2 linked regions of the Homo sapiens genome follow. The protein of the gene in region 1 purifies or fractionates together with the protein of each later gene. This does not show direct contact. Each region holds a gene or a part of one and is shown on either strand. Other genes may lie near its edges. The genes, in order: NXPH1 and CSPG4.

Region 1 (16,071 bases):
GCCTGGGCGACAGAAACTCTGAAAAAAAAAAAAAAAAAGAAAGAACTTAAGACTTGAATCAAGCCTGATATTAATATGATTGGGGGCAATAGGGCAATAAAGTGAAGCAAATGTTCTTGAGTGCACTTGCTATTAAATCTTTTTAAAAAATATATTTTATTTTTAATTAACAAATAATAATTATATATATGTTTAGAGTACAACATGACTTTATGATATAGTTGGCCCTCCATAGCCATGGGTTTTGCATCTGTGGATTCAACCAAAACAGAATTGAAAATATTTGGAAAAAAATTAACAATACAACAATATAAAATAATACATAGTTTTATTGTAACAATACAACAATAAGAAATAATACATTGTATTAGGTATTGTAAGTAGAGATGATTTGAAGTATGCAGGAAAATGTGCATGGGTTATACGCAAACACTATACCTTTTTAGATAAGCGACCTGAGCTCCCATGGACTCTGTGGAGAGGTGGTCCTAGAACTAATTCCCTGTGGATACCAAAGGACAATTGTGTATGTATACATCATGCAATGATTGAATCAAACTAATTAATGTATCCATGTTATCAAATCTTGATGGGTGGGATAAACAGGAGACTTTGACAAACTTTAATGTCTGCCACAAGGGGTTCAAATGTCATTCTGTGAGATGGAGTTTTAAAATTCCAATTTATCACCGTCTAGGATAAGGTTTCTCAAAGTGTATTCTTCTGACGACCTTCATCGGATCACCTGGATGCTTGCTAAAATGCCTATTTTAAAGATCAAAGCCCAGACTAGTAAATCCTAATCTAAAGTAGGGCCTGATAATGTGCATTTTACTTCACCCTCCAGGTGGAAATTAAGCAAACTAAGGTTTGGGAATTTCTGTCTTAGGGTATCTTAGATAGTTTCTAGCTCTAGGTTTGCTTGGGGATGGGAGAGAGGAAAGGAGGTAAGGTGGGAAAGGCTGTAGGTAGGGATGTAAACATTTTACCCTAGATTCAACCAGAGAAGCTTTGAATTTCTCTATTTTACCTACCATGTTTTTGAGTGAGAATTCTCTTGAATAAATAATTTCTTGGAAAAAATTAATGAATACATGAAAAGTAACCCTGTTCTAGACATGGGAAGATAAGAGGAGATTTTCTGTGTGTGTGCCGAGGAGTAACAGGGCAAATATGTTGTGTAAGCAAAAATCTATGGGTAGTATAAGGAACTGATCCACCCATCAAGTAAACATCTATTGGGCATCTACTGTGCAGTAGGCATCACACTAAGTGTTGGAGGTACAAAGATGGATAAGACCTTTGTACCACTACAGTCCTTACCACTATAGTGCTCATAGAAGTGAGATTAGTGAGAACTGGAAAACTAGTTGGGAACTGGAAAACCAGTTATAAGGTGTCTGTCCACATGTGAGATGATGAAGCCTCGTCCACGGTGCAAGGAGGTGGATGCAAGAGATATTCCGAAGGAAGGCTTGATGAGACAATGTGCCTGACTGGTCTATGAGATGAACACAAAAATAACCAGATTAATTCTGAGGTGTAAAGCTACATAGAAAGTTTGGGTGCCACAAATGAAGTCATGGGAGCTGTGAATAGGAAGATGTGTGTTGGGGGTGGGGGGTGGAGTATAGTATTGGGGGTATTGTCTAGTTTACCATTGAACATTTTGTATCAAAGAATGGCGGGCATTTGAGTGAAGATTCCGTCTGGCAGATAGAGATATTAGCCTGTAGTTTCAAACCAAAGGGGTGGGCTGGAGGGCAAATTGTTAGCCTGGGAGTGGTTAGTAGGAACAACCAGCACAGGAGACAAAAGGAAACTGTCATAGGTGTAGAAAAGAGACCTGGAAAGAGTGGTTTTATTAAATAGTTACTGGTAAGGTTAATTCAATAGCCCAGGGCTCCAAGGCCTAGTGTTGTTTTTCTCCGGGGATGGCTAACTCCATTTCCCAGGTCCAGAGTTGGTGGTCGTTATGATAATGGTATGCACAGTGCTTTCTGTAACTCTTCTCCCTCTATCTCCTTTCCCTGTTTCATCTGGTCCTGAAGGTAGAGTGATAAGGTGAGGTCTGGTTGTAACAAACTGTTGGGTAAGATACTAATAAGTGGTGAAGCAACTGAACTGTGAGATAGGATTTGGGGTGTACCTGTGCAGAGTGAGCTAGAATTTGGGGACATTGGGGTCTTTTTGGTATCACCACATACTTGGCTCTGGACATGAGGGGGTTAATGAATCTGTCCTGAGTAACTCATTCAGCGCAAATTTTCCATTCAGTTTCTGATTCTGAGCAGTCTCTGAGGATGTTTGCGGTGAAGGAGCTTGTGCCTTCTGGCCAAAATTTCCCACTCTAGTACTGTTCCTTTTGCTCATTTCACTTGGCTGATGTTTGCCTGAAAACTTCCTCCAACTACGCACTCTCTGAGAACTTCCTAGATGAGGACTTGCTGCTGCAGAGGCTCTGATATGCTCTCCTGCTGTGGGGTACACGAGGCTGTTTTTCGGACACTGAGCTTTCTGAGCATGATTGAACATTCAGCTCAATCTAGTTCAAGGTAAGGCTGGGGGTGCAAAACTGAATGTTGCTGTCCAGTAGAGAAGGGACATGTATAAACAGCATGGTGCAAATAGTAAGAATACTTTTTAGTACACAAGTCCCTGAGAAAAGTGGAGAGGATGAGAGGTGATCTTTGAGCAGAGGTTGTAGGAAGATGAGGAGTTTACCTAGAGATTGAATTGAGAGGCGTCAAAGCAAAGGAAAGAAGGTGCAGAGGCTCCAAGTTGAGACATATGGTTGTGTGTTAGAAGCTGTAAGGATAGGTAACTGATGAATGTGAAGCATGTAGTTGAAGAGGGGCCAGATGGAAGGAAAAAAAATGGAGTGGACAGAGGCCAGCTCACAGGGGGTCTCCTGTGCTGAGCTAGGGAGCTGGACTTGATTCTGTAAGCAGTGGAGAGTTTATGAGGAGATTTAAACAAGTGTCTGATGTGGGAACATTTTGGTTTTAGCTCCATCATTCAGGTAACAGTGAGGAGGATATATTTATGGAGACAGAAGCTGAAATGAGGGGAGATCAGTGAAAAGACTATTTCCACAGCCCAGATGACTAATGATATGAGCCTGGGTTATGAGCAGGAGCAGGAGCAGGAGCAGAGAAGAGAGGAGATAAGAGATAATTAGAAATAAAATTGAGATGTGTTGGTAATTTTATGTTTGATGTGGAGGACCAAAAAGAAGGCATAAGAAAATCTGGTACTTAAGTTTTCCAGTATGTTAGTGGGATCAGTTAGTCAGCTTTGCCTGTGATAATGCTGCAAAACAACACCCAAATCTCAACAGTTAAAGAGTAAACATTTGTTTCTCACTTTTGGATCTGCAGAACTACAGGTCAGCTTGGTGGCTATGCTCCAGATCCAGATCAGGCTCTGGTCTTCATGTGCTTTCTCATTTTAGGTCTCAGGCTGAAGGACACAGCTTCTACATGGTGCATGCTGTTCTCCTGGTGGCTGAAGGAGCAAGTGGAAACATGCTATGCCTCTTAAAGACTCTGATTATGATGGAAAAGAACAAGTAAGTAAGACAGGAAAGAAAGAAAGAGAGAGAAAGGAAGGAAGGAAGGAAAGAAGGAAGGAAGGAAGAAAGAAAGAAAGAAAGAAAAAGAAAAGAAAATAAAAAAAGAAAAAAAAGAAAGGCTTTGCATATATGGGGAGGTATACTTCTCCATTTCACCATGAGATCTTTTGGCAAAGGGCATGAGCTTAGTCCCATTACAAGTGGAGAACTCCACAGTGTGTGACACCAACTAACAGGATATATGTGTAATGTAATGACATAATTTCTTCTGTTTTAGGCATATTAATTTTAGGTTCCTCTAGCACATCTAAGTGGACATGATGGCAATTGAATATTCAGACAAAGAAAAACATCAGAAATGGACTTTATGAACTTGGTGGTCACTAGATGTTAATATATAATAAAAACATGGAACTAGACAGGATTGTCTAGTAGGAGTGAAAAGAAAGTTATTGATGGAACCCTGAGGAGCACCAATGTTTAATGTAGGAAGATTAGCACACAGATAATCTGAAAAGGAATGGTTAGTGGGTTATTTAAAATACATGGAGAGAATAGTGGCACTGAAACTAAAATAGTGGAGACAGTTACTAGAGAGAGGGGTATACATTAACGATCCAGTGATTCTCAGATTTTCAAGTCAGCCTTCGTGGAGATGAGTGTGAATGAGATCTTCTCATCTAACCCGGGAAGTTTATTTTTAAAACTAAATTGCTGATTGATGCTCATGGACTCACTAGGGATACAGTGGAATGATATAAATAAAACACAGGGTATGGTTCCTGGCATTTGCCTGGCACTTGGTAATTGGTAGCCATTACCCTGTTGAAAGCTATGGAGCTTTGAGAAATTACCATCTACTTAATACAAAATTTCATGTTAGACTATTTTGCTTTGAACTTTATCAAAAGCATTTTATTATTGAAACTAAAAGAAGCAGAAAAATGTAATATTATGTGATTTTTATAGCATGACCCCTGAAGTTAATTATGGTGAAATTGTAATATAGTTGTTTTCATTAATTTGATATTAAAAAGGGAGATTGAAAGATTTGTTGCATCCCTGTGATATCTCCTATTTAAAAGGTGTCTAATCCAAAACACTGTTATCACTATGACACTATGATATTTGGGTTGAAGCAGTTCTTTGTTCCCTGCCTGTATAAGTCATCTTGTTTTAGAGTGATGTATTCATATTGTCAAATCAGGATAAAAGCTGGACAAACATGTATGTTTCAAAATATCTAGGTACTTTAGATTATGGAGATGAACTATGCATTTACAGACTCATTTTCAGCTTCTGATAACCAAAGAGCTTGTAGCCTTTGTCCTTAACAATTTCTTCCATCCCTGCGTGGTTGAGAGTCCCAGTGTTCTTTCTGGCTGAAAGCAGATACTGTATTTTGCTTTGTTAACAGAACATTGGTTATCAAGTTCTCTGTCTCTAATGATTCTGTTTTAGGGAACTGTCAATTAATAATCTCTGGAGGAATCATCATAAAGAATTTCTGTAATGAGATTATAATGCAAAGGTTTGTTTAGTCACAATATTTTTTAAAATTTTAATTATGATTTTCGGGCGATGACCCCAATCTTTCCATCTTTTACATTCAACTGCCTTTTAAATGCTGGCTTCCTTCAATTTCTCTTATTATGTTCATCCTCTTTTTAAAGTTTTTGAGCATAACTAAAACTACCCTACCTTTGAGAACCCTCTGTCTTCACCTAGTAGAATAAATGAAATGTGGATACAAAGGCTGAGCATATAAATTACCTTTAAAAAAGAAAATGCCTTCTACATAAAGCTTTTTGATTCCCTTTAGTTTTTTTTTATTCTAGAGCTTGACGGCTATTTTTCCTCTCTAGTCCAGTGACCTTGTTATTAAAGCATTATTGTAAAGGTAATTTAGCACACATGCCTCATAGTTATTAACCGAGTTCTACCACATTCAAATACCAAATATTCCAGGCTGGTAAAAATCACTATGCAAATAATCCTTCCTTCCACTAGCAAAATATGTTGGGGGAGTGGAGAGGCCAGGGGCTTTTTTAGTAGTCCTGAGTGACATTTAAGAATTCTGCTAAAGGCCAGGCGCGTTGGCTCATGCCTGTAATCCCAGCACACTGGGAGGCCAAGAGGGGCAGATCACGAGATCAGGAGACTGAGACCATCCTGGCTAATATGGTGAAACCCCGTCTCTATTAAAAATACAAAAAATTAGCCAGGCGTGGCGGCGGGCTCCTGTAGTCCCAGTTACTCGGGAGGCTGAGGCAGGAGAACGGCATGAACCTGGAAGGCGGAGCTTGCAGTGAGCCCAGATCGCGCCACTGCACTCCAGCCTGGGCGACAGAGCGAGACTCCGTCTCAAAAAAAAAAAAAAAAAAAAAAAAAAGAATTCTGCAAAAGTAGTGGAAATAGCTTTGGATCTTTTCTAACCGATATTCATAAGTATAATAAGGATGCCACTTTGAGTGTAGATTCTCATAAATCAGTGACATTAAAAACATGTACAGAACAATTTACATGAAAAAGTAATATGATGAATTCAATACAGTCAACCTCTGACCTAGAAGAAAGGTTATGAGGGTGGAGCAGGGAAGAAATGCAGAAAAAATCTTTGGCTCAAACCTATAAACACACTTGACTAAAAAATCTTTGAAATGCACCAAAAAAGAATGTTTTTTCAAACTGTTAATATCTTTGAAAATCATAATGCAGTACACAATTGTTTTTTGGGAAGCAGGTAAATTTTTTAAACCTGCATTTAATCATAAAAGGTAAAATAAAGGAACTTTAGAATTAGAAATCATTTAAAACATCATGTAACCTTACTTCTGCATTATACAGAGGAGGGTACCGAGGCCAGGTGAATATTTAGGCACTTGTCCAGGACTACACAACATGCAAATGCCAGGTTATACTGAATTAAGGGCAGGAGGGTGATACAGTCTTTGTAAGTTTTCTATCACTATTAGGAAAAAAAATAGGTACAATGCAGTACTATGTACAAAGTGATGTAATTTGGCCTGAAGCTTAAGCAAGACCACAGCTGGATGCTTTGTAACAATAGTTCTCTGTTTTTACTTGGATTTTGGGTAGAATATGATGATATTAAGGTGTTTAAGACAGGTTCATTTTAGGACAAAATTTTGTAGAACTCAGCCTCTCTCTTTATGTCTCTCTTCTCTCCAGCCCCAAGATAATTCAAACCTCTCCCTTCCCTCTCCCCTGCCAAAAAAGAGAATCATACAAATGAACCAAACCAAAATAGATAATTACATTTAACAGAACTATCAGTATATGTCAGAAGATTCTAGTTTAATTTCTTCTGGTTTTAACTTTCAGGAAAGTTAATTTCACTATTTTCTTTTGATGCAGCCCATTTTAACCCTTTAAAAATATATTTCTTAGAGACAAAGATCTATATTATTTCTCGTACTGTTCATTTCAGGTTGGACCAGGTAGACATGGGGAAAAGCAGATGCAGAGGGTTGTGTTTTACAGTGGTTATCATTCATACTAAGTTTATATCTGTATTAAGTTGCATTGCACACAAAGTTTGGAAACAGTATTTCTGAAAGAATTTTCAGCATGAGTAAAGTCAGTAAAAATTGGTACAAACACTATACTTCTTAAGGTAATCACACTTTTGTTCTCACTCAATGAAGCTGACTGTTCATGTATTCTAAGAGTGCATTTTAGAGTAGGATACTACTTGAAACAGAAGAATGTAAGAAAATCATGCTTTTATTGCTCCATTGTTCTTTATAAAGCAAATGATAGGAAAAAAGGAGGGTGAATGAACCATTCTTGTCCACTTCTCCCCCAATATTATATTATTAAAACTGGAGTGGTTTAGCAGAAACGATACATTTTTCTGTGTTACTTGGTGGCTCGGTATCCTTTTCTGGTTGAGTATTATAGGAGATGAAGACCCCTGTGAAATATGAAAAATGACAATCCGCCACTGTTTTATATCACAGGCCAAGTATCTCATAGGATCCAGCGAAGGTTGAATGTCTGGGCAGAAGATCTCAGGTCATTAACAGAAAAAGCTCTTTGGCATCCTGTGTCATAGAACAAAGTGTCAAACCTGTTCCCATTACTAGGTGCCTGTGGTGCTTTTCTTAAATAATCAGTCCCATTCAGACAGACATTTTAAGGTCTCTGATCATCTTTCTATTTCACAAGCAGTATTTTTTTAAGGCTAAATGGCACTAGAAGCAGAATGTTTTTAAAGTAAGGTTTAGAAAAGAACTTGGTATATTCCAAAGCTAGCCGGATTCTTTCTCATTTTCCCAAAGGTCAGACAGAAGTTCAGCTCTGACAGCATTGTAGCTGGGAATCCAGATAGAGGCAGGCAACATTTGCTCCAGCTCTACACTCCAGTCTGGGAGGCCTGGGAGCTCCTGTACAAATAGGAATCAATTTTAGGATAGCCTTATGAATCCTAGAGGATGGAATTAGACAAAGCTTTTTTTGCCCCTGCTTTGACCATTTGGCCTCAGATACGGGTGCCCCAATACTTTAATTTTTCTTCTTTAAAGTTTAAAGTTTTTAAGAAAATGAAATAGCTGGTAAGTGAAAATAGTCAAGAAAACATTGTAATTATGCTATATGTACATGTGCGTTTTTTCTGAAGTGGATTTTCAGAGACACAGTTAGAAGGTGTGCTTCACTGCTTTATTCTGCATATGCCCCAATGAATTCCAGGAGGTCACAGCAGCAGAGTACAACTTTTAAGATTAGAAGAGCTTGCTCTTTAAAGAGTTATTTTTAGCTGGAAGGGAGAGTGTAGACCTCAAAGTGCTGGTAGGTATGTTCTACAGTGGGGATCTAATTTGGAGGTCTTTGGAGATCTGATTCCAGGGGAAGGTCTCAGTGGGGCTCCTCTTGCCTCTGCTGCAGGACTGGGTGGCTCTGCTGATTGTCACTGCCTTGTTTGAGGGGTGGTCTCCATCATCCAGGGGAATTCAGCCTGGGACCTATTGTCTAGAGTGTACATTGTATCTAGGCCCAGACCTGCCAGAGTGTCCACAGCCACACTTGAGGAAAGGACATTCCAGACTCATTAAATATCACAATTCGATTTTGATGTCACTAACTCAGGTTCCTGAGATAAATTTCCATACAATTCCTACAGATTGATATGGATATGTGCATCACCCCAGGAGAGGCTCTGGTGAAGGGCAGGCTTGGAGATGCAATGGGCAAGGTTGGGGAAGAGATACCCTCTTCCGGGTTCCGATTTGTGCCCTGAATTTGGGCAAGCTCAAGGAGCACTGGCAACCCCACCAGCACCAGAAGAAGCTGGTCCTGGCTGTCTCCCGAGACTGGTGAAACTGCTCTGGTGGTGGTGCACTGGAAGGGTGGAGGAAAAAAAACAAAAAACAAAACAGGGTTTGAGGGGGAATGGCAGGGACACGGTAGAGGCACAGAGATACAGAGACCTAGAGTCAGAAATCCTGAGTGAGACACACAGAAAGGCAGAAAAAGGCAGAAAGATGCTGAGGGACAGAGACGCAGACCACAAGAATGACAGAAGAAGGAGACAGAGAGAGAGAGGGAGTGAGAAAGATACTGAGAAATAGGGACAGTAAGGGAGAGACTGAGAAAGACAGAGACAGCCAGAGTCGGAGCACAGAGGCCGAGTCTGGGAGACGCTGGTTGAGTGGGAGGTGTCAGTAGCGAGGGAGGTGGTGACGGCTCGAAGCATCCCCCGTCCTCCTCCTCCCCCTTCACGCTCAGCCCAGCCGGCGGCGAGGAGTCCAGAGGCCAAGGTCGCCCAGTCCTCTCGGCTGTCTCGAGCTGAATGGCTGGCAGTCTGCGGCTCCCCCGCCTCCGGCCCGGCAGCCACAGGTCGGAGGCGCCCGGCGTCGGCGCTCGAGGCCGGCAGGGGCGCCCTGCACCCTCCCGCGCCCTTCCCCGCCCTACGCGACTCCCGGCTGCTCTTCCCGCCACTCCCCTGGGCTTTGCGATCTTCCCTACGCCCCCCGGGAAGGGGGCGCTGCGGCCACCGAAGACACCGCGGGAGCCACTTGTCCCTGTGGGCCCAGCCCGCGAGAGCCTGAGAGCCGGATCTGTTTACACAGGGTACTAATTAGTCTTTGAGGAATCATTCACCCACGTGCCAAAGTAATTGTCCGTGTCAGGAAGGTAGGCGTGCCAAGCCGCGGCTCTGCGGAGAAACCACGACCACCGCGGCCGCCGGAAACCCAAAGCGCTCCAGAGCGTCCCCGGGTGGCCGGGCAGCACCAGGGACAGCGCCCGGGACTCCACTGGGGACCGGCTCCTGGGCTTCCCAGCGTCGCGGGTAGAGGTACAGCTGCTCCGTGTGCCGCAGGCTCCAGATTCTCGCCACCCCACCCCTCCCTCAGAAACTCGGACTGCTCTCGTCTGCCGTGTGGTTCTCTTTTCTTCCGAAAGGCCAGTGTCTTATCTCTCCACTTCAAGTCCAGAGGACTTGCTCAGTCTCCTCCCCTTAAGTCATTTCCACCATCCTCAGGCAGCTGTGGGAAGCCGAGAGTCCTGGACTGTTCGTCCGGGTGCCAGCGCTGGCAGTCCCAGTCCGTCCGGTGCAGCAGCCCGGCGCATTCCCCTCTCTCCCTCCCTCTTGCTCTCCCTCCCTTTCTGTCTTCCTCTCTTTCCTCCTCTACTGCTCCCTCCCTCTCTTGCCTCTTAAGTTTCCTGCACCGTGAATCCAACTGTGCCAAGCCTTGGCTCCCGCGAACCAATCCTGAGCGCGACCCGGGCACTGGGACGGCGACTCCGCCAAAGCTGGACGAGGCAGCCGGACCCGTCTGCGCTCGAGCATGGAGACGGAGCGCCTGGGAGGGCACGTCCGGGGCGCTGGAGACGCCAGGCCCGAGTAGCTTCTCCATGGAGCCTGCCCAGAGCGGTCCCTTCTCGCAGGATTCGCCCCAAGTCCTGTGCGGTACGTACCCTTTGCCTCCGCTGTTCCCGGAGGGTACACCTGGGAGCGGGGTGGTGGGCACGAGGAAGGGACGGCAGGGAGGGGCGCTGGTTAGGAAAGAGAACAAGCCTGGCAGGTGACCCTCACAGCTCGGAGGAGGCTTCTTCTCTAGAAGTTAGCGACCGGCTGTACCCTTTGGCTCGAAAAAAGTAGTGCTAGAGATGTGACTGTGAGCATTCGTGGGTATCTCTGTGTGCGCCAGGGGTTCGAATGGGTAAACTGATCCCTGCTTTCCTGTATGCAAATTGCATTCTCTTTCCCCACCCCCACTTCACCGAACGTGTTGAGGTACCTAGCACCTAATCGCGGTCAGTTCTACCTACCTCTTCCTCTCACCGCGCCCCCCTCGCTCAATCTCTCTCTCTCCCTTTATCTTTCCCCTCTATCTCTCTCTGCTGGTGTGTACGTGTGTGAGCACTGCCAGGGCTGGCGAAGAACCAGCCGCCGCCTTTAGTCCGAGCCGCCGGGCCACCCAACACAAGGGCAGGTCTCGCTGCCGGAGAAGCCTGGGCTCCGAACCAGCCTGCACGCGGCTCAGTGTGCTCCGCCGCCTGGGAACTCGCACCCGAGGAGCGCAGGGGGCAAGGAGCCCCTCACCCTCCCTCTCGTCCGCCCGCCCGCCTCCCCAGCTGCGGACCGCGCGCTTGCTGGTCTCAGGCGCTGGATTTACTCGCTTTTCAATTTTTCGTACCCTCCCTCCCTTTTTTTTTTGGTCCCCCACTCCCCGCTACGACCCCCTTTCCCCGCTTGATTGTCAAGCCTAACCTTGCCCGCGTAGTCATGGGATGTCTAATTTTATTTGCATCTAGGCTGCTGAGAGCGCTCCTTGCTCTGTAAAGTGGATGTCAGGTGGATCTATGTTTCTGAAGGAACAAAGACTCAAAGAAGGCACCGCCAAGGAAGTTTGAGACGCGGGAGAATGCAGGCTGCGTGCTGGTACGTGCTTTTCCTCCTGCAGCCCACCGTCTACTTGGTAAGTCTTGGAAGGTTCGGGGCTTTCGCATTTTTACCCCGGCCGGGAGGCAAGGAAACTGGGGACACGCGGGAGAAGGGTTACGCCGCCAGTTCAGTGAGAGCAGCTTCCTAGCAGCTGTGTTGGAGCAACTTTGGCAAGCTGGTCTCTGGATTCCTGCGGATTTTCCGGGGTTCCCACCCCATTTTCTGCTCCAATCCCCCAGTCTCCTGCGCGTGATTCTTGAAAGGGGCTAGGGCGCCCCAGACACCCTAAACCCAAGGAGGTAGTGAGATGGGGTGCTTTATGTGATAGAGGGCCAACGAGAAGAAGTGGAAGGCAGGAACTCTCAGTAGCTCATGCACAGAGTTTAAACGAAGGGAAGTGGGGGTGTAGTTGGGTGGTGGAAAGAACAAATCTGCCCAGGTCTGTGAGTTTAAAAGTGAATCTACCCACCCACTTCCCCGATTTGGAGATGAGACACATAAAGAAGCGCAGTTAACTTTCTTTGACTTGTAAGGGTTCCGACAGGATAAGTTTAACTATCAGGGGTACTGCAAGCAATCGGAGTTAGGACAGAGATACTCCAGCAAACATGTCCACCTTCCTCTCGTCTCGACCTCCCCTTTTCATCAAATAACTAAATCCCATCTCCAGTGACTAGTCCATTATTAGGGAATGGTAGGCCTTGTCGCCAGGGAGAGAATTCTAAACAAAGCCGCGGTCCTTGTCCTTCAGTAGCAGAGTTTTCCGGGGGGCTGGACTTTGTACACTGCTGGAACTCGGCTCCTGGTTGAAGAGCTTTGTTGTGGTGAATTGGTAGCTGTTTGTGCCATGTTGAGACAAGGAGAATGAGATATTTCAGGTCTGGCTTCTGGGGTGGGAATGGGGGAATGGGGGTAAGGGACACTTGTGCCCTGCTGGTGAAGTTGTGTTCAGTGTCCCGACCCCCATAGCCCATCCTGGGCTGCGGGAGTGCACCGAGGGCTCGCTATGTTCTGTCTAGGGGTGAGGTGCGCTAAAGCAGCCCGAACTCTCTGATGGGCTACACCTCTGATTGGAGGTGATACTGGCGCTCCTCAATCCCAAGAGCCTTAGATAGAACCCATAAGCCTGAAAGAATTGCCATCCCTACAATTGACAGCGTTTCTCGGCCGTTGCCCTGGTGCATGTGGCTGCAAAGCTGCGAGTTGTGTGAATTCTGTGTATGTGAGTGACACGTATATATATGTGTGTGTGAATGTGTATTTAACCGATTTCAGCTTCAATCCAAGAACCCTCAATGTTGCCTGTCTTTGCCCCTTTATCGCCTGACCGTAGCAGCCGCGGACGCCAGAGGGCGCTGCGCATCAGCGTCCTCGCCCACAGGACACCTTGGGGTAAACAGGTGAAAGCCAGGGCAGCCAATCCAAAAGAACAGCCTTTCTGACTCTGTCACCGAAGTCTGTGCCTTTACCCGCTGGAACGCAGGCGGAATGCAAAAAGTGTCCTTCCCATTTCCCATCTTCAATCATTTTCACCCCCACCTGTGTTCAGTAAGCCCACTGACATTGAGAGACCATGGATGGAGGGCAGAAAGTTTGGCCAGAAGAAATATAGAATTTTTTTATTGAGAGATGGGGGGAGGGAATGCAAAGTGAAAGCGACGGGGGCGGGGGGGAGGTAATTTTAAGGATTCCCTTGACCATCGTAACCCGCTTGCCCTTTTCCTCTGCATACCTTTACGCCTGACCTGAACTTGAGGACTGTTCTTACGTCCTTGGGCTGTGCTCACACACACGGCAAGGGCTTGTGGCTATGGTGCAGTTTATTGCTTGGAGCAAGTATTTCGATAGTCTGGAAAATAATCTATCAAAAGCAGAAGTGAAATCAATACTTTGTGTTAAATTTTAAATGTGTTTGTTGGCAGTTAAACCGTTTTCCACTCATTACAACAACAGTGCTGGATTTATTCTAATGCGCTGCGTTCTCAACAACAAGCGCATTAATTCTCCTTTAATTGTAAACTGGGAGCATTTGAAAACCATTCAGTGTGCAAATTATGCTGATTCAATTACCGTTTAGTTACAGACTTCATTACCTGAATGCCTTTTGGCAATACAGAGAAAGGAGACAATTTTTCCAATTTCACTCAAAACAATACGAAATGTGAACAATAAAATAGAGAAGGCTATTTAGAAGTCCGTTCTTTTTTCTCCAATCTAAAGTACTTTTGTGTGTCGGGGACTAGAAACCACATGCACCACAAAAACTACAGCTGATGGCTGTGACCCAAGGCAGTATTTCCAGGGATTGTAATCCCATGGATATTTGCCAGCAGAATTCCGAGCTGTTTTCCTGAAGGAGCAAAAAGCTGACTTCTACCATGGAAATGAATTTAAAAGGGTGAATTGGGCAGTCATTTCGGGATGGTTTTAGGCAAATAAAGAAGTAGAGAGCCTTGATTAAAACTCTAGGGCAATGAACCGATCAAGAAGTGATCAAGGCTTCTTTCTTCATCTATTTCATTAAATACCAGATACAGTTAACTGGATTGATCATTTGTTTGTAGCTGCACATTGGAAGATCTTATCCCTTTGTAAGAACCTGCACTGGATGCATACAGATTGTCAGGAGCTGCTTTAAGTTACATTCAAAGAAGGCAAGAGTGGCAAAACCATTATTTTAATTTTCTCTTGAACTGACATAAGCCAGGGAAGAATTTGATGGATAATTTTTGTCTTTGTGAGCTCACACCACTAGTTAAGTGCCTGCATCACTCTGTTTATGCCTTACCTCTTAGCTGATATCTCAGTGCACCTTGACCTTTAAGCCCATGGTATCCTAGTTATGTTTCCCAGGGAGTAATCACCACATTAAGTCCATGAAACAAGACTTGTCTAGTTATCTCCTAAAGAAATATTTAGGCTTCTGTTTAAAGTGAATACCTTAAATACCCCCAAATTTGAGAATAACTTCTTATGAAAACTCTGCAGTAGGTCAATGCCCCACACCAAGCCACAGTTTCCTACCTGTATTTGGGTGAATGTTTGCAAAGTATGTTTCTGGGCCCGGGATTCTTTGAATGCTTTAGGTTGAGGATTTTTGTGTTTTTTGAGAGACAAGTCTGTCCTAGTTCAAAATAGAAGCTTATTTTAGTACTTTAATGGGAAACTAATTAGATATGTGCCCACAGAGTTACCTTCTGAAGCATGTTAGCTGGAATACTCAAAATCCACCACAGGACAAGCTCCAGCCATAAATGCATGGGGGTGGGAAACTAACTTTTAAAAATAAAGGTAAATAAAATTTCAGACTATTGAATGTTATGTATTGCAGATTTAAAAGCCTGAATTCAATAGGAGAGAAGTCTATGGTTAACAACGCTTATTAAAAATAATAAAAAAGTTTTGCAATCTTTATTCTCTTATTATTCCTGGACCAATTCCAGGATATTTTCAGTATGATACAATGGGATGGCAGGATGATAGCATTTTAACTTTATTGAAGCATATATTGAATCAGCTAGAAAAATATGGTTCCTTGCTCTGAAGAGTGGGGGTTCTAACTTGAATCAGCCTCATTGGATCAAGTAGAAGGATAGGCCAGGACACCAGGAAAGCATCTCCCACAGGGTGTGGCATTCTGTTTGGGGGCTCACCTGTGGTAACTCTCAGTTAGAGAGGTGAGTCTAATGAGCACTTTCTGAGCATGCTAATGAAAAAGCTACTCAGAAATTGAATCCAATGCATCCGACAAGGCATTGTATAAAGTTACTGTGACTAGTCACCCATCCACAGCTCTATTCTAATGAGAAGGGGTCCCACCATTTCTGCTAGGAATTAAATTGCTAATAATCAAGTTGCTTTTTAAATCAAAATAGGCATGAATTAAAAATCCTTTCTAAACTTGTGCCACATTATGAGCCATCTATTCTCTCAAATTTGGGATATCCTTAAAATGTGAATTCTACACCAATTGTTTAATAGAGTTTGGAGAGTAATTAATGTATCTATGGGACCACTACCTCTGCACTGTTAAAAGCTAGATCATTTGGGTGAAATCCACTCATTATGAAGATGGCTGTTAAGGTATATTGGAGCTGGGGGAAAAGCAGAGGGAGAGAGACCAGCAATGTCTTTTCTTTGGACTAGGTATGTGTGCTTCTCATTCTTTAAAAATTAAGCCAGCTGCACACTGAAAATTCTAATCAATTTGAGCTTATTACTGAAAATAAACAAAATAAAATAAATTTCCTGACAGTGGCTATTAAGTGTTCCCTATTAAGGCTAGTTCTTGGAGGCAGTACTAAAAGTTTCTCATTCCACTGCATTTCCTGACTCTTCTACTACAGACCAGCCTTTTAGATACATACGGGATTCAGACTAGATTTTTGGAAGGCCCTCTACCCCAGAAGCACAGCCTTAGAACTCATCAGTTTTAAGATGTATTCCTGAGCTCTGGGGGACACAGAAGTTGCTACTATTCTAGGCATTTCCCTGAAATGTTCAACTTTCCATTGACCAAGAAAGCAGCTCGCCCAAGTGTGTGGGAAGCACTTGGGTGGGACACTTTTCTGCCCCATTTCCAGAA
Region 2 (15,399 bases), on another chromosome or scaffold:
GGAAGCCCAGGAATGCCAGAAGGCTCTGTTTTCCGGGCATGTGAGTCCCACTGCAGCTCTGCCCGCAAGTAATTGACCCAGCAAGACTGGTACCAGGACCTCAGGAACAGGCACCTGCTCTGCTTGCAAGTGGGAGGCCTGAAAAAGGGGTCCCCTTTGCCCAACATAAGGAGGGCCCCTAACTGCTCTGGAAGCACCTGGGCCCATCCCACGCTGATTCTGTGCTGCAGAACAGTGCCAACCATCAGCCCCCCACTCTCTGCGCCACGCACCCCTCCCTCAGCTGGAAGGAGGGCCCATTTCTAAAATCACCATTCCCACCTGTGCCCGGCCCCGGCCAGGCACACACGGAGGCTCTGAAAGGAGACCCCTGTCCCACCAGTGAGACAGATTAGGGAGCACTGTTGGTCAGCGCTGGGGGTTTCTGGGAGTGAGAACTTGGTGAGGGTAAGAGCTGGGGCCTTCCTGGGTAGGGGACATAAGCTGGCCTTGAGGGACACACAGGACTAGGGCAGATGGAGAGCAGGGAGGCTGGGCCTGGAGGGTGACCTTCCCTGGGGCCTTCCCTGGGGTGACAGGGAAGGTGAATGCGGGAGGCCCTTTGTGCAGGGGAGCCAGAGTGGCGCCAGCCTCGATGCCACCCGAGGGGCTGAGCCGCAGCAGGACTGGAGCCCTGGTGGCAGCCCAGGGCCGGGGAGGAAGGGGTGGGTGAGTGCGGCAAGGCAGAACCTTCACAGGCCTGTGTTCCCAGATGTGGGAGGGGGCCACTGCGCCCATCCCTGCGGAGGCTCTGAGGAGCACGGACGGCGACTCTGGGTCTGAGGATCTGGTCTACACCATCGAGCAGCCCAGCAACGGGCGGGTAGTGCTGCGGGGGGCGCCGGGCACTGAGGTGCGCAGCTTCACGCAGGCCCAGCTGGACGGCGGGCTCGTGCTGTTCTCACACAGAGGTGGGTGCTGAGGGCCGGGCCTCGGGTTCCTGCTGCCCACGGGGGTGCCCTGAGATGGGGAGCCGGCTCGGGCCAGCTGGACCCAATGCCCCTGTCCCCAGGAACCCTGGATGGAGGCTTCCGCTTCCGCCTCTCTGACGGCGAGCACACTTCCCCCGGACACTTCTTCCGAGTGACGGCCCAGAAGCAAGTGCTCCTCTCGCTGAAGGGCAGCCAGACACTGACTGTCTGCCCAGGTGGGTGTGCTGATCATGGGCATTCCTGGGTGCCAGGAGCTGGGGCGGAGCTGAGGGTGGCATGCCAGGGTCACGCTGCCTCTTTGCAAACACAGGCCTGGACCTGGCTCCCAGTCAAAATCTGATATCCCCTTTTGCCTCTGGCAGGGTCCGTCCAGCCACTCAGCAGTCAGACCCTCAGGGCCAGCTCCAGCGCAGGCACTGACCCCCAGCTCCTGCTCTACCGTGTGGTGCGGGGCCCCCAGCTAGGCCGGCTGTTCCACGCCCAGCAGGACAGCACAGGGGAGGCCCTGGTGAACTTCACTCAGGCAGAGGTAAGGGCCCAACTTTGCAGCCACCACTCAGATGCCCCCAGCCTCAGGTGGCCGCTGTGCCATGGACATCATGTGGACATGGATGCCAGCTCCAGCATCACTGGCAGCAGACGTTCCCGGGCCTGCCATTGTCCAGGCGCTAGTGTCCTGTCCTCCAGGAGCCGCCAGGCTGGCAGGGCAAGTTCATGTTCCCAGAAGGAGGGAGAAGGATGCAGAAAGTCGGGGATACAGGGCCCTAGAGCAGGGCTGGGGTCTTGGGGTATAGCTTCCAGAAGGAAGCTACAGCCGGACCCGAGGGTCTGGAGAGGGGGCACCATGTGGGGGCACTAGTGGTACCCCAGTAGCTGATGAGGGGCAGTGCTTGGTGGGGGATGGAGTTGGACGTGAAGCAGCGGCTGGGCCTGTGGGCAGAGGTGTGAGCCTGGGGCTCAGGTCAAGTGCCAGCCAGAGGCAGAGTGGATCCTAGGGGCAGATGAGCTGATGAAAGGCAGCTGAGTCAGCCAAGAGGGTGAAGCTGCTGTTCATCCGTCCTGGTGGCTTCAGAGACCACCAGGAAGAATTAGAGCTCTCAGCCATGGGTAGCAGCAGACTCTCTGTGATAACTGTGCCATGGGGGCCAGCCCAGTCATCACTTAAATGAACACCACTCGCTGAAGACAGAACAGGAGTTGTTCCATAGCAGGGCAGAGCGGGGCAGACTCTTCCATGGGCCATCCCAGGCAGGCGGCACATGTGATGCTCCCGCCAGGAGGCTGCATGGGCATCTGGACCCAGCACATGATGACAGTGAATTCTGGGTAGGGAGTGGTCTTGTGGGGCGCAGAGCTGACTCTCACTCAGGAGCCACAGCATATGGTACTGCCCCAAGTACCTCCTGAGGGGTCCCCCTGCCAGCCTTCAAAAAATGGCAGAGCCCACCCCAGCCCCCTTTCCTAGCTCGGCAGGGACTCCTGAGCCTGGCACTCTCCCTCCTGAGAGGTGCAGATGGTATTCAGCAAGTGCAAAGGCAAAGTCCCTGCCCAGCAAGTGGCTCAGATTTGGGCATCTGGAAGGAGGTGGCTTTGACAGGTGGAATGAAGTTTCTTGGGCTTCTCACATCAACACCTCCCAGTCCCAGGTTCTGTATTTCCCTGGCTCCCCACTCCTGCTATGGCCCCCTCCCCACAATGAGATATTTGTCAGGCTGGTGTCTGCAGCTGCTGCGTACCCTCAGTTGCTGGGAGCCTTTGTCAAGAATGCCCAGGAATGGAGAGGGCACGGGACCAGGCCATCAGCAACCCTCTTGCACTTTATAGTCCCACGTTACTCAGAGCTTCCCCGTGCCCCAGAAATATGAAGGACTAGACTGAATGGACACCAGGGGGTCAGGCTGGCAGTGCCACCCAGGAAAGCAGGGAAGAGGCTACGTGGGCTACCCTGGCCCACTCTGGGAGGAGGGCAGGACTGGGTATTGTCTTGACAGCAGCCCTGTCCCACAACACTAAACTGGGCAGGGAAGGGGTCAGGTGTCCCCATTTTTCAGATAAGGAAACAGGCTCGTGGAGGGCAGGTAACTTTATTCAGAGCACATGGCGAGTAAGAGGCAAAACTTCTGCCTGCGAGTCCAGGATTTCCTTCACTGGAGGACACTGCTTGCTCCCCAGAGCTCAAGACCCTGTTTTTTGTCTCACTCCCACCCACAGAGCTCCCGTACCCAGGCATCAGCTCCCACTCCCACTCCTGGGGGCTCCATTTCCTTCCTGCCCACCATTCAGCCTGGGCCAGAAGTTGCCACTGGCAACTCTAGTCCTGGGCCAGATCTGGCCCACAGACGTGTTTATTTGGCCTACAAAAAGCAGCTAATACTTTGAAGTTAATTGTCAACATATAACCTTTGGGAAATTAAACAAAAAACTTGATTCCCATTTTCTTAAAAGGCCTGTGTTCCCTCTTACAGCGAAAGCAGGGGAGCAGCCACTTCCTTTAGAACAGGTGCTAGCCCCTATTCAGATAGCTCGGCTCTCCTTCAGACTGGGCTCAGCTGCCCTTTAGCCCAGGCTCTGCTCCCCTTAGACCAGGCCCTGCCCCCACCTCAGACTGGGCCCTGCCTCCCCTTAGCCCGGCCCTGCTCTCCCTTAGCCCAGGCCCTGCCCCATCTTAGACGGGGCCCTGCTCCCCTTACTCCGGCCCCTGCTCCCCCTTACTCCGGGTTCTGCTCCTAGAGTCTTCACAGGTTAAGACCCTGTTAAGTTTCCATGTTACTATTGGGCAAGTCCTGTTTTTCTCTGAGAAGAAAATAGTTCCCAGTGTTTCCTAAAAGGGGAAAATAAGGCCGGGCGCGGTGGCTCACAGCTGTAATCCCAGCACTTTGGGAGGCCAAGGCGGGTGGATCACGAGGTCAAGAGATCGAAACTATCCTGGCTAACATGGTGAAACCCCATCTCTACTAAAATACAAAAAATGAGCTGGGCGTGGTGGCACGCATTTATAGTCCCAGCTACTCAGGAGGCTGAGGCAGGGGAATCGCTTGAACCCGGGAGGTGGAGGTGGAGGTTGCAGTGAGCCAAGATCGTGCCACTGCATTCCAGCCTGGGCGACAGAGCAAGACTCCGTCTCAAAAAAAAGGGTGGGTGGGGAGCAAAAGATAGGCCAAAAGAACACATTGTGATTGGAGGTGGAGAAAACCGTTTTTCTTCCTGGAGCGAAGAATATTCTTTGGTGTTGAACTGCAGGCAGCACCATAGAACAGCAGGTGTGTCTGGAGTGGAGGTGAGGGGAGTTGAGGTCGCAGGGGTGATATGGTCACAGCCAGGCCTTAGTGGTCAGATGGGGAGACACTGCACTATGTGAGCCAAAGAGCCCCATAATCTTCCCTTTCAAAAGGCTCACTCTGGCTGCTGTGTTAGGAACAAAATGTAATGGGCGGGGGACTGCAGCTGGGACACAGGAAGCTGTTACGATAATCCAGGTGAGAGATGCGGTGGTTTGAGGGAAAGAGAGGATGCAAGGGTGGTTCCAAGGGTGTGGCCTGAGCCCTTGAAAACGGAGCTATAGTCTCTGAAGCAGGATGACTGTAGGAGGTGGGGGCCGATCGGGAGTGCAGCCGGGGCAGGTTGAGTTTGAGGTGTCTATTAGATATCGGCAGAGGTAGCTGGAAACATGAGTCTGGGGTTCAGGGGAGAGCAGGCTAGGCTGGAGCTACAAATAAGGGGGTCTCAGCACAGCTGGCATTTGAGGCCAGGAGACTGAATAAGGACTCATGGAGAGTGCCTGTAGACAGAAAAGAGCCTGGAGACCTGGCCATAAGATGTTGGGGAGAAGAGGAGGACCAGCCAGGAGAGTCTGTGAGGTAGGAGGAACCCCAGAGTGAAGTATCCCAGAGCCTGTGGCTCTCTTGGAGGAAGGGTTGCTTGGCGGCACCAGTGCCACTGAGCAGTTAAGAGGAGGCTGAGAGCCGACCGCTGGATCCAACAACACGGAGGCCTCTGGTGCCCTTGGCAAAAGGAGATGTGGCGATGGGGGAGCAAAATCCTGGGTAGAGAGACCCAAGAATGCCTGGGGGAGAGCGTGGACTATGCTTTTTGAAGTTTTGCTGCAAAGAGAAGCAAAGGGGCAGGGGTGAAGCTGGTGGAAAATGTGAAGTCAAGAATAGTTTTTTCTGGCCAGGTGCAGTGCCTCCTGCCTGTAATCCTAGCACTCTGGGAGGCCGAGGCAAGTGGACCGCTTGAGCCCAGAAGTTCAAGACCAGCCTGGGCAACATAGTGAGACCCTGTCTCAACAAACAATAAAAAAAAATAGCTGGGTGTGGTGGCATGTGCCTGCAGTCCCCGCTACTTGGGAAGCTGAGGTGGGAGGATCGCTTGAGCCCTGGAGGTCGAGGCTGCAGTGAGCCATGATCACGCCACTGCAGTCCAGTCTGGGCAACAGAGCAAGACCCTGTCTCAAAATAATAATAATAATAATTAATTAAATAGCTTTAATGTAAGTGAGACAAAAGAATAGCATAGTTGCATAATGAAGGGAATGATGCATCTGGGGGGAACTGACACCATAGGAGAAAGCCAAGAGACAGTAGAAGTGGTGTCTTCAGAAGGCAAGAGGGGATAGGATCCTGTGCACAAGAGGAAGTACTCGCTTTAGAGAGCAGCACAGACAGATCATTGCATTCCCCAGAGGTCAGAGAAATTAGGCGATTTCCCCAGGGTGGCAGAGTTGGGGTTTGAGCCCAGGCTCCGGCTCCAGAGCCCAGCTCTGCACTGCATTGCCTGATGTGACCCAGTGAGTTAGTGAGGGAGACAGCGGGTCACACGCACAGACCTGGGCACACCCAGGAGAGCCCAGAGTGGGGCCTGAGGAGACAAAAGTGCTCAGTGTCTGGACAACACAGGCTGGACCTGCCTCTCACCCCACGATGGTGTCTCCCCTAGGTCTACGCTGGGAATATTCTGTATGAGCATGAGATGCCCCCCGAGCCCTTTTGGGAGGCCCATGATACCCTAGAGCTCCAGCTGTCCTCGCCGCCTGCCCGGGACGTGGCCGCCACCCTTGCTGTGGCTGTGTCTTTTGAGGCTGCCTGTCCCCAGCGCCCCAGCCACCTCTGGAAGAACAAAGGTGAACAGCATGATAAGCTGGCAAGATTGTGGGGAGGGACAATGGGAGAGGCCCAGGAGGAGGGGACACGAGGCCAGGGTCAGCAGCTCCTGTCTCAGCCCCCAGGACCTGGGAAGTCACAGGGAGGGTGAGTGGGGAAGCTTTGACATCACAGCGGGGACATAGTCCTTATCCTCCTGGGAACCCTGAGCCCCACCCTGGAGGACCTGGCTTGATGGTTGGGGGGAGGCACATCCTTGCCCTGAGGCACCCCCAGCTGAGGGTCCATCACTCTCCCCTCAGTGGGCTGGACCCTCATAGCCTATGTCCCACCCCCAGGTCTCTGGGTCCCCGAGGGCCAGCGGGCCAGGATCACCGTGGCTGCTCTGGATGCCTCCAATCTCTTGGCCAGCGTTCCATCACCCCAGCGCTCAGAGCATGATGTGCTCTTCCAGGTCACACAGTTCCCCAGCCGGGGCCAGCTGTTGGTGTCCGAGGAGCCCCTCCATGCTGGGCAGCCCCACTTCCTGCAGTCCCAGCTGGCTGCAGGGCAGCTAGTGTATGCCCACGGCGGTGGGGGCACCCAGCAGGATGGCTTCCACTTTCGTGCCCACCTCCAGGGGCCAGCAGGGGCCTCCGTGGCTGGACCCCAAACCTCAGAGGCCTTTGCCATCACGGTGAGGGATGTAAATGAGCGGCCCCCTCAGCCACAGGCCTCTGTCCCACTCCGGCTCACCCGAGGCTCTCGTGCCCCCATCTCCCGGGCCCAGCTGAGTGTGGTGGACCCAGACTCAGCTCCTGGGGAGATTGAGTACGAGGTCCAGCGGGCACCCCACAACGGCTTCCTCAGCCTGGTGGGTGGTGGCCTGGGGCCCGTGACCCGCTTCACGCAAGCCGATGTGGATTCAGGGCGGCTGGCCTTCGTGGCCAACGGGAGCAGCGTGGCAGGCATCTTCCAGCTGAGCATGTCTGATGGGGCCAGCCCACCCCTGCCCATGTCCCTGGCTGTGGACATCCTACCATCCGCCATCGAGGTGCAGCTGCGGGCACCCCTGGAGGTGCCCCAAGCTTTGGGGCGCTCCTCACTGAGCCAGCAGCAGCTCCGGGTGGTTTCAGATCGGGAGGAGCCAGAGGCAGCATACCGCCTCATCCAGGGACCCCAGTATGGGCATCTCCTGGTGGGCGGGCGGCCCACCTCGGCCTTCAGCCAATTCCAGATAGACCAGGGCGAGGTGGTCTTTGCCTTCACCAACTTCTCCTCCTCTCATGACCACTTCAGAGTCCTGGCACTGGCTAGGGGTGTCAATGCATCAGCCGTAGTGAACGTCACTGTGAGGGCTCTGCTGCATGTGTGGGCAGGTGGGCCATGGCCCCAGGGTGCCACCCTGCGCCTGGACCCCACCGTCCTAGATGCTGGCGAGCTGGCCAACCGCACAGGCAGTGTGCCGCGCTTCCGCCTCCTGGAGGGACCCCGGCATGGCCGCGTGGTCCGCGTGCCCCGAGCCAGGACGGAGCCCGGGGGCAGCCAGCTGGTGGAGCAGTTCACTCAGCAGGACCTTGAGGACGGGAGGCTGGGGCTGGAGGTGGGCAGGCCAGAGGGGAGGGCCCCCGGCCCCGCAGGTGACAGTCTCACTCTGGAGCTGTGGGCACAGGGCGTCCCGCCTGCTGTGGCCTCCCTGGACTTTGCCACTGAGCCTTACAATGCTGCCCGGCCCTACAGCGTGGCCCTGCTCAGTGTCCCCGAGGCCGCCCGGACGGAAGCAGGGAAGCCAGAGAGCAGCACCCCCACAGGCGAGCCAGGCCCCATGGCATCCAGCCCTGAGCCCGCTGTGGCCAAGGGAGGCTTCCTGAGCTTCCTTGAGGCCAACATGTTCAGCGTCATCATCCCCATGTGCCTGGTACTTCTGCTCCTGGCGCTCATCCTGCCCCTGCTCTTCTACCTCCGAAAACGCAACAAGACGGGCAAGCATGACGTCCAGGTCCTGACTGCCAAGCCCCGCAACGGCCTGGCTGGTGACACCGAGACCTTTCGCAAGGTGGAGCCAGGCCAGGCCATCCCGCTCACAGCTGTGCCTGGCCAGGGGCCCCCTCCAGGAGGCCAGCCTGACCCAGAGCTGCTGCAGTTCTGCCGGACACCCAACCCTGCCCTTAAGAATGGCCAGTACTGGGTGTGAGGCCTGGCCTGGGCCCAGATGCTGATCGGGCCAGGGACAGGCTTGCCCATGTCCCGGGCCCCATTGCTTCCATGCCTGGTGCTGTCTGAGTATCCCCAGAGCAAGAGAGACCTGGAGACACCAGGGGTGGAGGGTCCTGGGAGATAGTCCCAGGGGTCCGGGACAGAGTGGAGTCAAGAGCTGGAACCTCCCTCAGCTCACTCCGAGCCTGGAGAACTGCAGGGGCCAAGGTGGAGGCAGGCTTAAGTTCAGTCCTCCTGCCCTGGAGCTGGTTTGGGCTGTCAAAACCAGGGTAACCTCCTACATGGGTCATGACTCTGGGTCCTGGGTCTGTGACCTTGGGTAAGTCGCGCCTGACCCAGGCTGCTAAGAGGGCAAGGAGAAGGAAGTACCCTGGGGAGGGAAGGGACAGAGGAAGCTATTCCTGGCTTTTCCACTCCAACCCAGGCCACCCTTTGTCTCTGCCCCAGAGTTGAGAAAAAAACTTCCTCCCCTGGTTTTTTAGGGAGATGGTATCCCCTGGAGTAGAGGGCAAGAGGAGAGAGCGCCTCCAGTCTAGAAGGCATAAGCCAATAGGATAATATATTCAGGGTGCAGGGTGGGTAGGTTGCTCTGGGGATGGGTTTATTTAAGGGAGATTGCAAGGAAGCTATTTAACATGGTGCTGAGCTAGCCAGGACTGATGGAGCCCCTGGGGGTGTGGGATGGAGGAGGGTCTGCAGCCAGTTCATTCCCAGGGCCCCATCTTGATGGGCCAAGGGCTAAACATGCATGTGTCAGTGGCTTTGGAGCAGGTTAGGCTGGGGCTCATCGAGGGTCTCAGGCCGAGGCCACTGCGGTGCCAGTGCCCCCCTGAGGACTAGGGCAGGCAGCTGGGGGCACTTGGTTCCATGGAGCCTGGATAAACAGTGCTTTGGAGGCTCTGGACAGCTGTGTGGTGTTTGTGTCTTAACTATGCACTGGGCCCTTGTCTGCGTCGGCTTGCATACAGAGGGCCCCTGGGGTCGGCCCTCCGGCCTGGCCTCAGCCAGTGGGATGGACAGGGCCAGGCAGGCCTCTGAACTTCCACCTCCTGGGGCCTCCCAGACCTCCTGTGCCCCCACCTGTGTGGGCAGGTGGGCCAGTCTTCGGGTGATGGGACCAAACCCCTTCAGTTCAGTAGAGAAAGGCTAGGTCCTCTACAAAGAGCTGCAAGACAAAAATTAAAATAAATGCTCCCCACCCTAGATTTATTAGCCTGAGTTTCGACCTCCATACCCCTGTCCTTCCCCAGCCACCTCTCAAGGGGTTGCAGCAGCAAAGTGAAGGGAGTGGGGGGACTTGGGGATCCCAAGGCTGGGACATGGTACCAAGGGGGAGGGGGAGGAGAACCACCACAGGTGCCTCCTAGAAACTTTTACAAGGAAGGCTTCTGCTGGTGTCCACCCTCCCAACAGGAGGACCAAGTGTGCTGCTTCTCAAAGCCAGAGGAAGCAGCAAGGATTCAGAAAAGCCAGGCATCCCCGCACGTGGCCTGAGAGGCCAGCATTGGGTTACAGAGGGGTTCTGAGGCCGCGGCATCTCCAGAAGGCCCTCTCTGAGTTACTGAGTCACCACCCTCTAGACCTCTCTTGAGGGTGTCGCAGGGTTGGGGGCAATGGAGACAGATTCTGGGTCCCAGGGGATATGCCTGGCCCTGACAGTAGACTGAAGAGAGGAAGAGAAATGTGAGAGGCCTCTGAGTGCAGCCAGGGTCAGTGGGTGGGAAGCCCTGGCCAGCCTCTGGCAGCTGACCTGCATCTGGGGACCAGAGTCACCTCTTCCCTGCATCCCAACATCTGAAACATTTGAACCAGGAATGAGCAAGAGAAGTCTCCTCCCCACCCTGCCCCTGGACCGCCCCTCCTATGACGCCTCTCGCATCTCAGTGTCCAGCCTCCTAGGTCCTCCTCCACTCTGAGAGGCTTCGGGCAGGAGGCCAGGTACATCCTGCTGTTAGGGCCCCCAGAGGACCCAGGGGAGACTAAGAGTCAGGGAGGGGAAGAGGGCTGTCACACAGCAAGGCGCTTCTTGCCACACTGAAAAGCAGGACTCCCCAGGGAGGGTGACCAGGGCCCCAGAGATCCCTCTGCACCCTGAGCTCACCGTGCACAGGGCTCCGCGTGAGCCTGCTCCGTTCCTTCTACAAGCCTGGTCTCTCTGGCGCCCCAGGCCAGCCTGAGGCAGGGGCCTGGCCAAGGGTGTCTCTACACCACATCCCCTCCCAGGAGCTCAGGCTGGAGCCTCAGGGCCCTGATATCTGGAGCAAGTCTCTACCCAGGGTGACCAGTTTCCCTGGAAGTGTAAGCTGAGAAGAGGGTGAGAGACCCAGCAGGCAGGATCTGGCCTGGTCTCCGATTTCCCCCAGAGGACTGAGGACACACTCTGTTCACATAGCCTGGCCCGGCCTGCCCTGCCCCCAGGGAGCTGGCACCAGCTGACACCGTTCCAGCTCCTCTGAGCCCATGCAGGACAGTGGGCTGGCACCCAGGGCACTGTGCCAGCAGCTCTGCTAGGACCTGGGAGAGGGTCTTTCATGGGCACACCAGAGCTGAGAACCCAACCTAAACGTGGGACCTTGGTTTATGTAAATCCCTTTCCCCAGGGCTTAAGGGGCTTGTCTCCACTTTACAAAGTAACTCACCATCCCCCTCCTTTAAGGAGCCAGTTCCTCCCAGGCGCTGGAGATAACAGCCAACCCATGTGCAAGTGTTCAGGAATGTCTGGGAGCTCCTGACCCTCTCCACACAAACAAACATACACAAATCCATAATGTGCCTTTGTGCACGCCATTGTGTATATGAACACAGGCTCATGCATGACCTTCAGACACACAACACAGAGATAAATACCTACCTACCTAAGACACAAACGCATACGCGGGGGCACACACAAATTTCAGAAGTATATGCTCCTTACCTGGGGCCCCCTGCAGTCCCAGCTAGCCTAGTCGGGCAAAGGAGTCAGGATTTTCTGCCCATTAAGGCACTCAAGCTGACATCAGCAGAATTGCAAAGTGAGCCCACTGGTGGGGGAAGGGGACAGGGTAGGAGTTGCCAGAGGGGCCCAGATCCCCAGGACCCCAGCTTAGAAACCCTGCCCACCACCCTAAGTGGCTTAGTCTCTCAGGTGCTAGAGAAGGGGCTCCCTCTGAGCCCTTCCCTGCATCCTAGAAGCCAGTCCTTTAAGCAGATTGCTCTGGCAGCCAGGGAGCCCACTGAGCTTGCACACTCATCCCCCAATAGGAAGCCAGAGAAGTGCTTCTGCCACCCCACACCGACCTCCCCTGACCAATGAGAACTGCCAGGGCTGCTGGCATCTTCCTCCAGGCCCTGAAGATTCCAGATCTCAAAGAGGTGGAGGTTCTTCCTGGGCAGAACTCCAGACCTCTCTGGTTGGATCTCCCATTCCTGGCCGTAAGATGTCGGGAAGCCCTGGTAAATAGTTGGGACCAAGGTAGAGAACCAGACCCGCTGGGCTCCTCTACACAGCTCCACTCCGACCCTAGGGCCTCTCATAGGTAACGCCATCCCTGTGGAGTTACCGCTAAGATTGGTCAGGCAATAGCCAGAGCATTTTGTGCCAAAAATGCAGTGGAAGATGTAGATAGGAATCCAATCAGCCCTTCCTGAAGAGCCGCAGGCATACCATTGAATAACTACCTAACCCTGACATGTGCCTTCACCCAGCGGTGTGAGCAGGCCAGTGAGGGGAAGCGCAGAGTGGGAGGGCTCACTGCCTCTGTCTGCTTCCTCCTCTCCTTAGAGAAGGCTGGTCCTTTCCATGGAAGGCCCAGCCACATGGCAGCTAAAGCTGGGCATGTTCAGCTACATCCTGGTTACATTTCTATTCTCAGTGTAATGGATTACAGTATTTAACTGATGGCTACTAGCCTCACAAAGGGCATCAGCTCCTTGGAGGGCCCTCTGTGGCCACCAAGATAATTGGTGGGTTGTGTTGTGTTCCTTCATGTTCCAGATGTCCTGTGAGCCCCTAGAGACAGAAGCAACCCTGGATTAAATCGCCCAGTTGCCAAGAAGGACTTTTTTACCCAAACACAGCCTCAGCAGGGGACTAGGATAGTTCCCCTGCCTGCCAACCTGAGATCCGTGCTCTGTTAGTCCAGAGCCTGGAGCTAATCCCAAGGCTTCCTTCTGATGCCTCGTGAGATTGCAAAGGACCCAAGAGACACAGTCTCTGGGTCTTGCAGACTCAAATGCAATGAGTTGCCTAAGTCTTTGCTGCTCAAAGTGGAGTCCATGAACTGGCAGCACCGGCATTACCTGGGAGCTTGTTGGAAATGAAGACTCTCAGGCCCTACCCCAGAGTAGCTGAATCAGACTGTGTTTTAACAAGGTCCCTGGTGATTAGAAGACACATGACACAGTGTAAGTCCTGACTGAAGTCTTCCCCTCACCCTTTAATTAGGGGACACTAAAATGGGAGAGGCAGGGCCCAGACCAAGATCATACAGTGAGCTGGTGGCTGAGCTGGAAGAGGGGTCAGACCTCGAGCCCTGTCCCAGGGTTTTCTATTCCACTTCAGCTCTCACTCTTGCAAAGACCCCCACATCCGCTGCAGGTTTGGAGGGATGGGTTCTGACATGGGTTCCTTCCCCAGGGGACTCCAGTGAGGACAAGAGAGGGAAGCAGAGGAGGGTAAGACCAGCAGCCAGATCTGATCCAATGGGGAGGCTCTGCAGGAAACAGCCTACTCCCATCCTTACCTCCCAAAGATGGGGCCCTGGGAAGTACAGTAGCCCCACCACCCCACCTTCTGTAATCTGGCTGCTCCTTCCCTTCCTGTCCCTTCCCTGCCCATCTGGTCTCACCTGTCAGGGGAAGAGATGAAGGGAAGTGTCCGGCCAATGTCACCAGTCAGTGCCTGTGTCATGCACAGGGCCTCCCCCATGGAGGAGCAGGGCAGCCAGCAGGAGAGGGGAAAGAAGCCACCTGTCACACTGCCAGCCAGGCCTGGTCAGAAGGAGGGCATGGGACACCCAGAGCTCTCTGTCCCGCAGAGGTGCCCCACTGTCTCTCCTGTCCACAGAAGGAATGCTGGTCTATGGCCCCCAGCCTGTGGGCTATCCTGGTGCTGGGAGTGCCTTTGGGACCCCCACCAACTCCACTCCCCTCCTGGGTTGTTGAGCCAAAGCCCAGGTGAAGGCCCCAGACCCCCACACCCTGCAGTAGGCATCGTTCAATTCTATACACTCCACTAAGGCAGTGTGTAGCCTGGCCTAGCCACTGCTGTGCCCATGCTGGGTACACAGTAGATGTCCAGCAAACATCTACTGCCAGAACACAGCACCCCCTTCCCTCAGACATGCCCTCAAGCCAAGAGGCCTCTGACCACCCATCCTACCCAGACCTCTCCTGGGTTCCCACTCTGGCTCCCCTGCTCCTCTCACCCCCAGGGTTGCTGGCTGGGCTCTCGATGGCTGCTCTGGCCCCAGATCTCTGCTAGGGCCCAGGCTGACCTGACCCCAGGCCCTGAGTTTCTGTCGGGTGGATTTAATCTTTCCCTCCCAGATGCTTCAGAGCTCACTGCACACCTCCTTCAGACTCGCCCGTGGCTCCCTCCCACCCAGACACCTGAGGTCATTCTGCCTGAACGTGTTCTGCCTATAGGGTCTATCTCAGAACGCTATGGGCAGAACACGTTCACCAAATCACACGTGGGGGCTCACCACAGAAAGAAGCAAAGTTAAGTGGGGCAGGAGGAGGAGATGACCCCAAACCCCCTTACACTCAGCCTCCCCCTGCCCAACAGCCCTCCTGAGAACATCCAGGCTCATGGGGCGCTGTGCCAGCCGGGCTAACCACTCACAGGGCTCACTTGATCACAACCTTCGGGGGCAAGGGGCAGAGCAGAGCCACGGATGCCCTCACCTCTCCCCCACCCAGACGACCGTGCATTCAATCAGGGGGCCCAGAGAAGAGGTGTGACTCAACCATAGTCACAAAGCAATTCACCGGCAGAGCTAGGCCTCCTAGAGGCTTGAAACACTTCCAGATGCCAAAGATATGTCTCTCAGCAGTGGGATGCCCAACACCTGGAGAGGCATCGGGGCCAGGCAATGGGCCAGGGATGCCAGACATGCTGGCCAGGGCAGAGACCTTCAAGAACCAGACTGCGGCAGGGGAGCCTTGTTGAGTCTTGTTGGGGAAGGTGGCGCCTGTGCTGGGGTGACCTAAAGAGCTGCTGGGCAGGTGGGCGAGGCTGGCAGAGCCTGAGCGCTCCTGGAAGTCAGTGACTCAGGTAGAAAGGCCCCTTCTGAGTCAGCCCTGCTAAAAGGTTGCCTTGTGAGTACTGCACCTGGACAAGCAACTGGGGCAAGGCCCAGGGACTCCATGAAGGTTCAAGGCCCCAGGACCTCTGCTCCCTAATCTGCCCTGAGAAGCTCAGAGTCTGGGGGCAGAACACATGAACTGAAGGAAGGAGGGCAGAGGCAGTGACTGTCCACTTGGTGAGCTTGTACAAGTCCACCCACCTGTTCTAACTCAAGAAGGGACCACTGGTTCGAGAGAGTATTGAGCCAGGCCTGGGAGCTCAGTGCCTGCTTTCTGCCTAGAAGCCCTCCTCCTGTCCCTTCCAGCATTCATGCTATGTGTCTGGCCAGAGGGCCCCAGCCCAGCTTCTGCCCTCTCTCTGAATGAAGATCTACCAAAACAGTATAACTGACCAAGGTTTCTTTCCAAAGGGTCAGTGTTAAGGCAAAGCTCTTAGAACAGCCCCTCACACACAGTAAATGCTCAATAAATGTTGGCCTTTTTTTTGTTGTTGTTCGTTTTTTTGTTTTTTTTTTGTTCGTTTTGTTTTGTTTTGAGACAGAGTCTCACTCTGTCGCCCAGGCAGATGTGCAGTGGCACGATCTCGGCTCGCTGCAAGCTCCGCCTCCGAGATTCACGCCGTTCTCCTGCCTCAGCCTCCCGAGTAGCTGGGACTTCAGGCGTCCGCCACCACGCCTGGCTAATTTTTTTTTCTGTTTTTTGGTAGAGACGGGTTTTCGCCGTGTTAGCCAGGATGGTCTCGATCTCCTGACCTCGTGATCCACCCACCTCGGCCTCCCAAAGGGCTGGGATTACAGGCGTGAGACACCGTGACCGGCTTTTTTTTTTAAAATACGGAGTCTCGC

Evidence for each region.
Region 2: the proteins of NXPH1 (region 1) and CSPG4 purify together in Homo sapiens (co-immunoprecipitation; 2 studies listed by BioGRID and IntAct, with this or other methods). This does not show direct contact.

The regions. Positions count from the first base shown.
Region 1 is NC_000007.14:8,424,248-8,440,318, forward strand, and holds the start of NXPH1 (neurexophilin-1 precursor), read left to right. Parts: upstream 1-9,361; 5' UTR 9,362-10,508; intron 10,509-11,356; 5' UTR 11,357-11,466; coding exon 11,467-11,520; intron 11,521-16,071. UniProt on the Homo sapiens protein: May be signaling molecules that resemble neuropeptides and that act by binding to alpha-neurexins and possibly other receptors.
Region 2 is NC_000015.10:75,668,394-75,683,792, reverse strand, and holds the end of CSPG4 (chondroitin sulfate proteoglycan 4 precursor), read left to right. Parts: intron 1-751; coding exon 752-950; intron 951-1,051; coding exon 1,052-1,186; intron 1,187-1,333; coding exon 1,334-1,500; intron 1,501-5,906; coding exon 5,907-6,090; intron 6,091-6,408; coding exon 6,409-8,243; 3' UTR 8,244-9,471; downstream 9,472-15,399. UniProt on the Homo sapiens protein: Proteoglycan playing a role in cell proliferation and migration which stimulates endothelial cells motility during microvascular morphogenesis. May also inhibit neurite outgrowth and growth cone collapse during axon regeneration.